Linked DNA regions of Homo sapiens. The protein of the gene in region 2 purifies or fractionates together with the protein of the main gene of each other region. This does not show direct contact. Each region holds a gene or a part of one and is shown on either strand. Other genes may lie near its edges.

The links. Proteins that work in one complex are often made in the same cells at the same time.
Region 1: the proteins of HOXD3 (region 2) and CTH purify together in Homo sapiens (affinity purification with mass spectrometry; one large-scale study listed by BioGRID and IntAct). This does not show direct contact.

Annotation. Positions count from the first base shown.
Region 1 is NC_000001.11:70,424,768-70,428,267, forward strand, and holds part of CTH (cystathionine gamma-lyase), read left to right. Parts: intron 1-3,500. UniProt on the Homo sapiens protein: Catalyzes the last step in the trans-sulfuration pathway from L-methionine to L-cysteine in a pyridoxal-5'-phosphate (PLP)-dependent manner, which consists on cleaving the L,L-cystathionine molecule into L-cysteine, ammonia and 2-oxobutanoate.
Region 2 is NC_000002.12:176,155,885-176,160,106, forward strand, and holds the start of HOXD3 (homeobox protein Hox-D3), read left to right. Parts: upstream 1-1,422; 5' UTR 1,423-1,568; intron 1,569-1,583; exon of another isoform or gene 1,584-2,050; intron 2,051-3,366; exon of another isoform or gene 3,367-4,053; intron 4,054-4,222. UniProt on the Homo sapiens protein: Sequence-specific transcription factor which is part of a developmental regulatory system that provides cells with specific positional identities on the anterior-posterior axis.

The sequences.
Region 1 (3,500 bases), on a different chromosome or scaffold from region 2:
AAATACAAAAAATTAGCTGGGCGCAGTGGCGGGTGCCTGTAGTCCCAGCTACTCGGGAGGCTGAGGCAGGAGAATGGCATGAACCCGGGAGGCGGAGCTTGCAGTGAGCTGAGATGACGCCAGTGCACTCCAGCCTGGGTGACAGGGTGAGACTCTGTCTCAAAAAAAAAAAGCTTACGAGTTCTCTTAGAGTGTGTAAACTCTGAAGAAATGGCCTTATTATGTGATTGTATCTGCTAATACCTTATGCATAGTAAGGACTTGAATGTTTATGCATTGATTACAAATCAGTCATATTTTTCAGTCACCTTGAATATTTTTATATATATTCTAAAAGAAAAGTGATGCTCAATGATTTCAGTATATATTATACATATTATTTCTCTTCTTCTAGTTTTTATTCCTTCAGCACTCCATATACTATGCCTAGATCTCTTTAACTTATTATTATTTTGAACTTTTACTTTATTTATTTTACATTATAGCTGTAAGTATTTATAGTGCTCTTATGTTAGTCTCTTTGGGTGGCCATAACAGAATACTATAAACTGGGTGGCTTACAAACAGCAATTTATTTCTCACAGTTCTGAAGGCTGGGAAGTCCTCAATCAAAGTGCCAGCAGATTCAGTACCGGTGAGGGCCCACTTTCTGGTCCATAGATGGAGCCTTCTCGCTGTGTCCTCACATGGTAGAAGAGACAAGGCAGTTATCTGGGGCCTCTTTTATCAGGGCACTGTATTAGTCCATTCTCACACTGCTATAAAGAAATAATCCGAGACTGCGTAATTTATAAAGAAAGAGGTTTAATTGGCTCACAGTTCTGCAGGCTGTACAGAAAGCATGATGCTGGCATCTGCTTGGCTTCTGGGGAGGCCTCAGAAAACTTACAATAATGGCAGAAGGCAAAGGGGAGCAGGCACAACACATGACCAGAGTAGGAGCAAGAGAGAGAACGAGGGGGAAGGTGCTACACACTTTTAAACAACCAAATCTCACAAGAACTCACTCACAATTGTGAGGACAGTCCCAAGGGGAGATGACTCTAAACCATTCATGATATATCCACCCTCATGAACTAATCACCTCCCTCCAGGCCCCACCTCCAACATTTGGGGATTACAACTCAACATGAGATTTGGTGGCGACACAGATCCAAACCATATCAGGCAAAAATCACCCTAATCACCTCCCAAAGGCCCACCTCCTAATCATACTAGTGATTAGATTTCAATCTATGAATTTTGGAGGACACAAATGTTCAGACCATAGCAGCTCTCTTTAAAGATTTCTTTCGCTACCTAGCCCCCTCTGCATTTGTTTCCTCCCCAGACCACCCCTCCCATACATCTATCCTTTCCTTTTTTCTCTGTCTTGTGTCTAGTTTCATCCTCTTTTGTGTTTCACTTTCTTTTGTAGATCACTTTGGGATCTCTTTATAATTAACTTGTTTCCTGCCTTTTCCACACAAGTTCTCCCTCTCTTTCCTCTGAGTAACCCAACTCTTTCCTTTCCTTGTTAGGAGATACCTTCTTCCTGCTCTTTTCTTCCTGCCTGTACCTTGTCATACTTAGTACACTTCCTGTAGTTCATCTCTATTCTGCAGAGTTCCTGAAAACCAGCTCATTTTCTCTGGCTCTTCAATTGGGCAGATGTTTACAGGTTTTATTGTTTACATTTCCCCCCTTCTGTTCTGGGTCCCTGAAGTTGATCCAGGTTGCTGCCTCCATGTGACTGGCTGACTCCCTGGGCAGTTGGTATAAACCTGCTTTTCACCTTCCTCCATTTTATTCGAAGGCATTGTCATGGTTTATTTTCCTTTCCTGAAGCACACTTCCTGGCTACATTGCATTCAGACACCTTCGTGGGCCATCTGCCTTTGGCTCATAATGTATCTTTGATTGCTGATTTTATCAGGTAAAGCAGTCTGTTTCCCAGTGAAAAATCTTCTGGCATTGTCTATTTGGCATCTTCTATTTGTCCCAGGTGGTTTTCAGTGTAAGATTCCTTATCGCAACTCCTTAGCCCATATGCCACTTACATTAGGCCAGTTAATACAGCATAGGATAGCTTTAGCTGAGACACAGTGAGTCCTGTATATTCCCAAAAAGATTGCATACGTTTTGTAGCCTGGACCTGCCCGGGTTACTCATCAAACCTGGCCCTCTTTCTCCTATTACTGTCACTAACATAGGTCTAGTTTTTCTACCTTTTTGAAGCCCACATCACATTCCGCATGCCAATGATTGGAATTTGCTTCATTTCAATTTGGATTTATTCCAGCTGAAATACTCAGAATCGCATCATCCCTAAGTAGCCACATGTGTTGTTTCCATGAAGCAAATCTTCCTGAAAAAAATCTTCTCATTGTCTTACCTTAATGAAAATGGAATATATTCTCTTTCTTCCCAGTCTTTTGTCCTCTGGATCTTCTGTAAGTCTCACGAAAGGCAAAATAGACCTACCATCATCAAGTTTCAGAGTAGCACCTCTGGAGTCAGGCAGTCTGGGTGTGAGTCCTGGCTCTACCAGCTTTTTAATCTGAGGGATCTATCTCATTTTTCTTAGTCCCCTTTCCTCACCTGTATGATGAGAGCCATAAAGGTACTGATTTTATTGAGTTAGGTATTTTGTACACTGCTTCCCTGGGTTATATAAAGTACGTAGCATGATTCTCAGAAGATAATGAGATCAGAGGTGTTAGTGATTTGGTTTTTATTTTTCCTTCTCTTTTGGCTGTAGAGTTTACAGAATGTTAGCACTAGAAAAGACCTTAGGCCTCACCTACTTTGACCCCATCCCTTTAGGAACCCTAAATGAAAAGTTCCCATAGCCACCTATACTAATATCTTCCAAAGACTAAACAGCTCTAATGAGGGTGAAATAAAAACACACAGTTCTATGTTTAGGAAAATGTAAAGGGAAAGATGTTGATAATGTATGTTTTTGTTTGTTTGTTTGTTTTGAAATGGAGTCTTGCTCTGTCGCCCAGGCTGGAGTGCAGTGGCGCGATCTCAGCTCACTGCAACCACCGCCTCCCCGGTTCAAGCAATTCTCCTGTCTCAGCCTCCCGAGTAGCTGGGATTACAGGTTTCCACCACCACCCCCCGCTAATTTTTGTATTTTTAGTAGAGATGGGGTTTCACCATGTTGGCCAGGCTGGTCTCAAACTCCTGACCTCAAGTGATCCACCTGCCTAGGCCTCCCAAAGTGCTGGGATTACAGGCGTGAACCACCACTCCCGGCTTGACAGTGTTTTATTAAGTGGAAAGTCTACACTTTTCACTCTGGTTGTAAACAAATACATTTTAAGACTACAGGATTAACCTAGAGGACATTATGTTAAGTGAAATAAGCCAGGCACAGACAGACATATATAGCATGATCTCATTCATGTGTGGAATGTAAAAAATGTTGATCTCATAGAAGTAGTGAATAGAACAGCGGTTACTAGAGTCTGGGGAAGGGAGGGTGGAGGTGGGGAGGACAGAGGATGGTCAAT
Region 2 (4,222 bases):
CATCGCAGCCTTTTGTTGGGAGATGACACTGTCAGTCAGCCCATGATGTCTGTTCACACGAGATGCTTTTTTAATAGAATTGACCAATGTTTTGCTGCCACTGATTAAAGTATTATTTATACTAATTGTTGCTTGTAGTTTTGATGTAATTCATTGATCTATATTTAAAATAATAAAAGGTGTAGCAAAATCTCCCTCCTGTTTGGTGCCTTAACAGAAGCATTCATCCTTTGTTAAGTCTTCTAAAAGCTAACATTTAACATAAACAAGTTATTATTTTCTGCAATAAATTAGGCACCATTTTTTGGGGGGTGCCTAAAGTGTGAAGGTTAAACCATGTAAGGCTTAGCAATTCTATTATTACCACCTCCTTAATGTACACACACTCCCAGTTGGCCACCATATTTTGTGAGCATTGGGAAGCCTGGGGTTGAATTCAGGGTACAGAGTGTTGGGTGTTAATTTTTTGAAGAAAAAGTAATTGCCCAGGTTAATAGGGGGATCCAGGTTGGCATTCTGCTGGGCCCGGGCCAGGCCCCAGACCTTTTTGGTCTGGAAGCCCTCAGAGGAAGTCTTTGGGAAGTGGTGGATGAGACACCTTACTGGTCCCCCACCCCTAAGGCAGGGAGAGCGTGCTGGGTTCTGGGCCGAGCTGAGGCTCCTGGGTGGCTGCTCTGACCTGACCCCCGGGCCTCCACTCTTGGGCTTCTACTTTTCCAGTACTGTTAAGCTCCTGTGGGGACTCCAGCACCTGCCCCTCCTTCTTCCGCGCCCCCTCCACCCCTCAGGCAACAATAAACACTCCCCACTATAAAAAGTGCCCTGCACTACATTTACCGCAAGGGCTTCTTTACATCTTGGCCTCGCCTTGAAGAAGGGGCCAAGACAGGAGTCCCAAAATAGATGGGGGTGCTTGTTCCAGACAGGAAATGAGCAGAATGCATAAAATCAGACATCTGTCCTTAATATATGGAAGGGCTTGCCCCAGACGCGTGGACATGTGTATTTATAAGTGCGCAGGCAGAAGTTTAAATATTCAGACACATTTTATGATTGTCCTCTGCCCGTCTTCTGCTTAATGGCTCCTCCCGTGCCCACCAATACATCAATACCGTTGTGTGTATTGAATCGCGGGCAGGGATGAGGAGGAAGCGAGTCCATAGCAGAGCCCGCTGAGTATAGAGTACAGTAAATCGGGACCCTCGGCGGACGGCGCTTCCCGCCCGCCTGCCCGCCATGTTGGGGAGCCCTCCCTGCCCCCCGCGCCGGGCTGGGCGGCCGGGGCTCGCTGGCAGCCGGGGGAGGGCCTTTCATAACCCGGAGAATTTTCTAAGTGCGAGGAAGATGATAAGAATAGATTTCTACAAGTCCCGACCACGTGATTGGCGAAATAATTAATTCAGCACGTCCCTTAAGAAACACGGAGTCGTCATTAATCTGCCACGCAAAGGGCTCTCTCCGACTTGGAAAGTGCAGGGATCCCAAGAATATCACCCGTCCAGGGGGGCCGCGCGGTGCCCCCGGCCCTCCACCCCCGGCCCCCGGCGGGCGCGGGAGCGCGGCCGCAGGTAAATATTTTGGCAACTTTTATTTCATCAGATTTAAATCCTTAATGAACTTAGCTGTCACGGCCGCTGACAAATAGTTCCCTTTGCTTCCTGATTTGGAACTGCGCGCCGGCGAGAAGTTGTTAGTGGCTTGGATGGTGACCTTTGGTTCAGCAAAGCTTTGCACTTATGAAAAATTACTGAGAGCGGCCGAGTGTGTGTGTGTGTGCGTGCGTCCGCGCGCGCGCTTGTGTGTGTGAGAGAGGGAGAGACAGAGACAGAGACAGAGATAGGGAGAGGGTGTGTGTGCGAGGCGCTAGGGTGCCAGGGGGCGAGGGGTGAGGGGCGAGGTGCACGCGGGCTGCTCCAAGACAACAGGAGTTGTAAAAAACCGGCCCGGCTGGCGGACGCGCCTGGCGCACGCGGGCCGAGGTTGCCTGGTCGCCTGTGTCTACCAGGAACAATGGTCGCTGTCACGGCATCTGCCGCCTATTCTTAAACCGGTGAGAAAAGGCCCTGGCCCTCTTTTCAAGCGAGGGTCGTAAATTTTTCTTTGCGTCATAATAGAAGGCTATAAAATCGAGTTGAAATTTTACCCCAGGCAGGTTTTAACCAACAGATAATGATTTCCGAGTTGCCTCTCCCCCCGCTCCTCTCTCCCCACCCAAGTTCTGCTGCCTCTGTCACCCCAGCGAGTTTCTTCTTCTTTCCCGTTTATTTTTGTGTTTGTATTTTTTATTTCTATTTTGGAAGAGCTAAAATAAACGCGAGAAGAAGTCCCTGCAGCCCGAGTGGGAGACCCCGGGGCGACGGGAAGCCTGGGGAAAGGAGGATGGGGGAGAGGCCAGTGCGGGCTGCAGAAGGCTGTTTCTCTGCTCGCTCCCGTTTCTGCCTTTTTTCACCGGCACTCCAAGAAAATTGGGTGTCCTAAGAGCCACTCCGCTCCGTTCCACCCCATCCCCAGCTTGCCAGGGTCGTGGGCTGGGGCAGTAGCGAGCATTCTTTTCTTCCAGCTTGCAGCTCCGACCCGGGCGCCTCTTCATTCGCCTCCTTCCCTCTTGTTGCTGTGAGATACCTCCATTGGCTTTCAGAATGATTTCAGCGAGCAGGGGCTGGCTGCGCGTGGTGGTTGTTTTGGGATTATGTGTGCGTGTGTGTTTGTGTGTGTGTGTGTTTTCATTTATTTTTTGGTGTGTGTATATTTCCCCGTCAGGACAGAAACAAAGTTTCCCCCATTATGAATTATACATTCAAACAATAACACATTAATTCAATTATTCAAAGATGACAAATGTTTATGTGCTTTGCGAGTGACTCGGGCGCAGATTCCAGGCGCTTTCTCTGAGCTGCTTGCATTTTTCTCAATGAGAATCGTCTCCCCTCCCACCCCCCCCACTCCAACCCACTCCAACCCACCTAGATATCCCCTTGTAGGCCCAGAGAGGAACCCACAAAAAGCTTCCCCAGCCCTGCTGGCAGCCCGGCAGCCAACAGCCTCCCAAGGCCCCGGCTTGGCGGGCACTGGCCCGGGCTATTTTATCAGTGTGACAATTGCCCGGGTTGGTGTGATAAATCATCGTAAGTAATTCCTGAAAGGGTGCGAGACTGTTGGGGGCCGGGCGAGGACTGTAAATCTTTCCGGTTTATTGCTCTATGAACATATGCTCCGATTGAAGAAGGCTTAGATCCTTTCCTGGAGACAAATTCCCGCAAAGCAGCCCCCCTCTTTGGCTGGGGATTAACACTTGCTGCTGGCCGTCAGGTCGGCCTCTGGCAAGAGGCTAGGGGGCGGGGTCCTCCGGGTGGGGGTGGGCTGGGGTCACCCACGATCCGGCTTCGAGAGACGCCCCGAGTGGGCCTCTGGCCAGGCCCGGCCAGGTGAACAAAAGGATGGGCTCGTAGACGGTTCTGGGGGCTCGGGCCTCCAGGACATTCCTGCGCCTCTGGAGTGGGGATGCGGTGGACCTTACCCACTCCTCTGGGGCTCTTCTATGGCTGCTGGGCACTTTCACCGGTCTCAGACCCTGCAATCAGCAACAGAGCATTTCACTGTGCCTGATGCCGCTGAGCAGAGCTGGCAACGAAACCAAAACTTCGGGGACAGGGTGGAGAGTTCCCCGTGGTGCGGGATTCCCGAGTGTGGCCCCGGCTGGGGGAGGGTCTTGGGCGCTCATTACAGGCCAGGAGGTCCGCTGCTGGCGCTGGCACGCTTAATTCTTTTTTCCCACATTGCAGAATCATTCCCACCAGCCACTCGGAGAGTGGTGGGAATCTGTCTTGGTTTAATATTTCTAAAATATAAGTTTCATTGTCCCCCAGGTTAGCCCAGCCAGGACTCATTGCGCAGTCCTCCTCGCCTTCCTGGAGGCGCCGCAGGAAGCGGGAAGTCGCGGCTTGGCGGTTGCTGGGCCTGTGGGATCTGCGGGTCCTGCCCAGACCTGGAGTCGCACAGATCACGGCGGGCAGTGGCTCAGCGCCTAGGCGGCTCCAGGCCTCGAAGGACCAGGTTGGGGTGCTCAGGGATCAGAGAGGGGAGGTCGCTCTGGGTCCGGGTCGCCTGCTACGCGCCTTTTCTGTCTCAGAAGTGGCGGTGACTCGGCTGCTGAGTCCGCGGAACGAGCCACGGAATGGTGGTGGTGGCGGGGTTTTCTGAGGTGACTGGCCAGAGCTGAGAG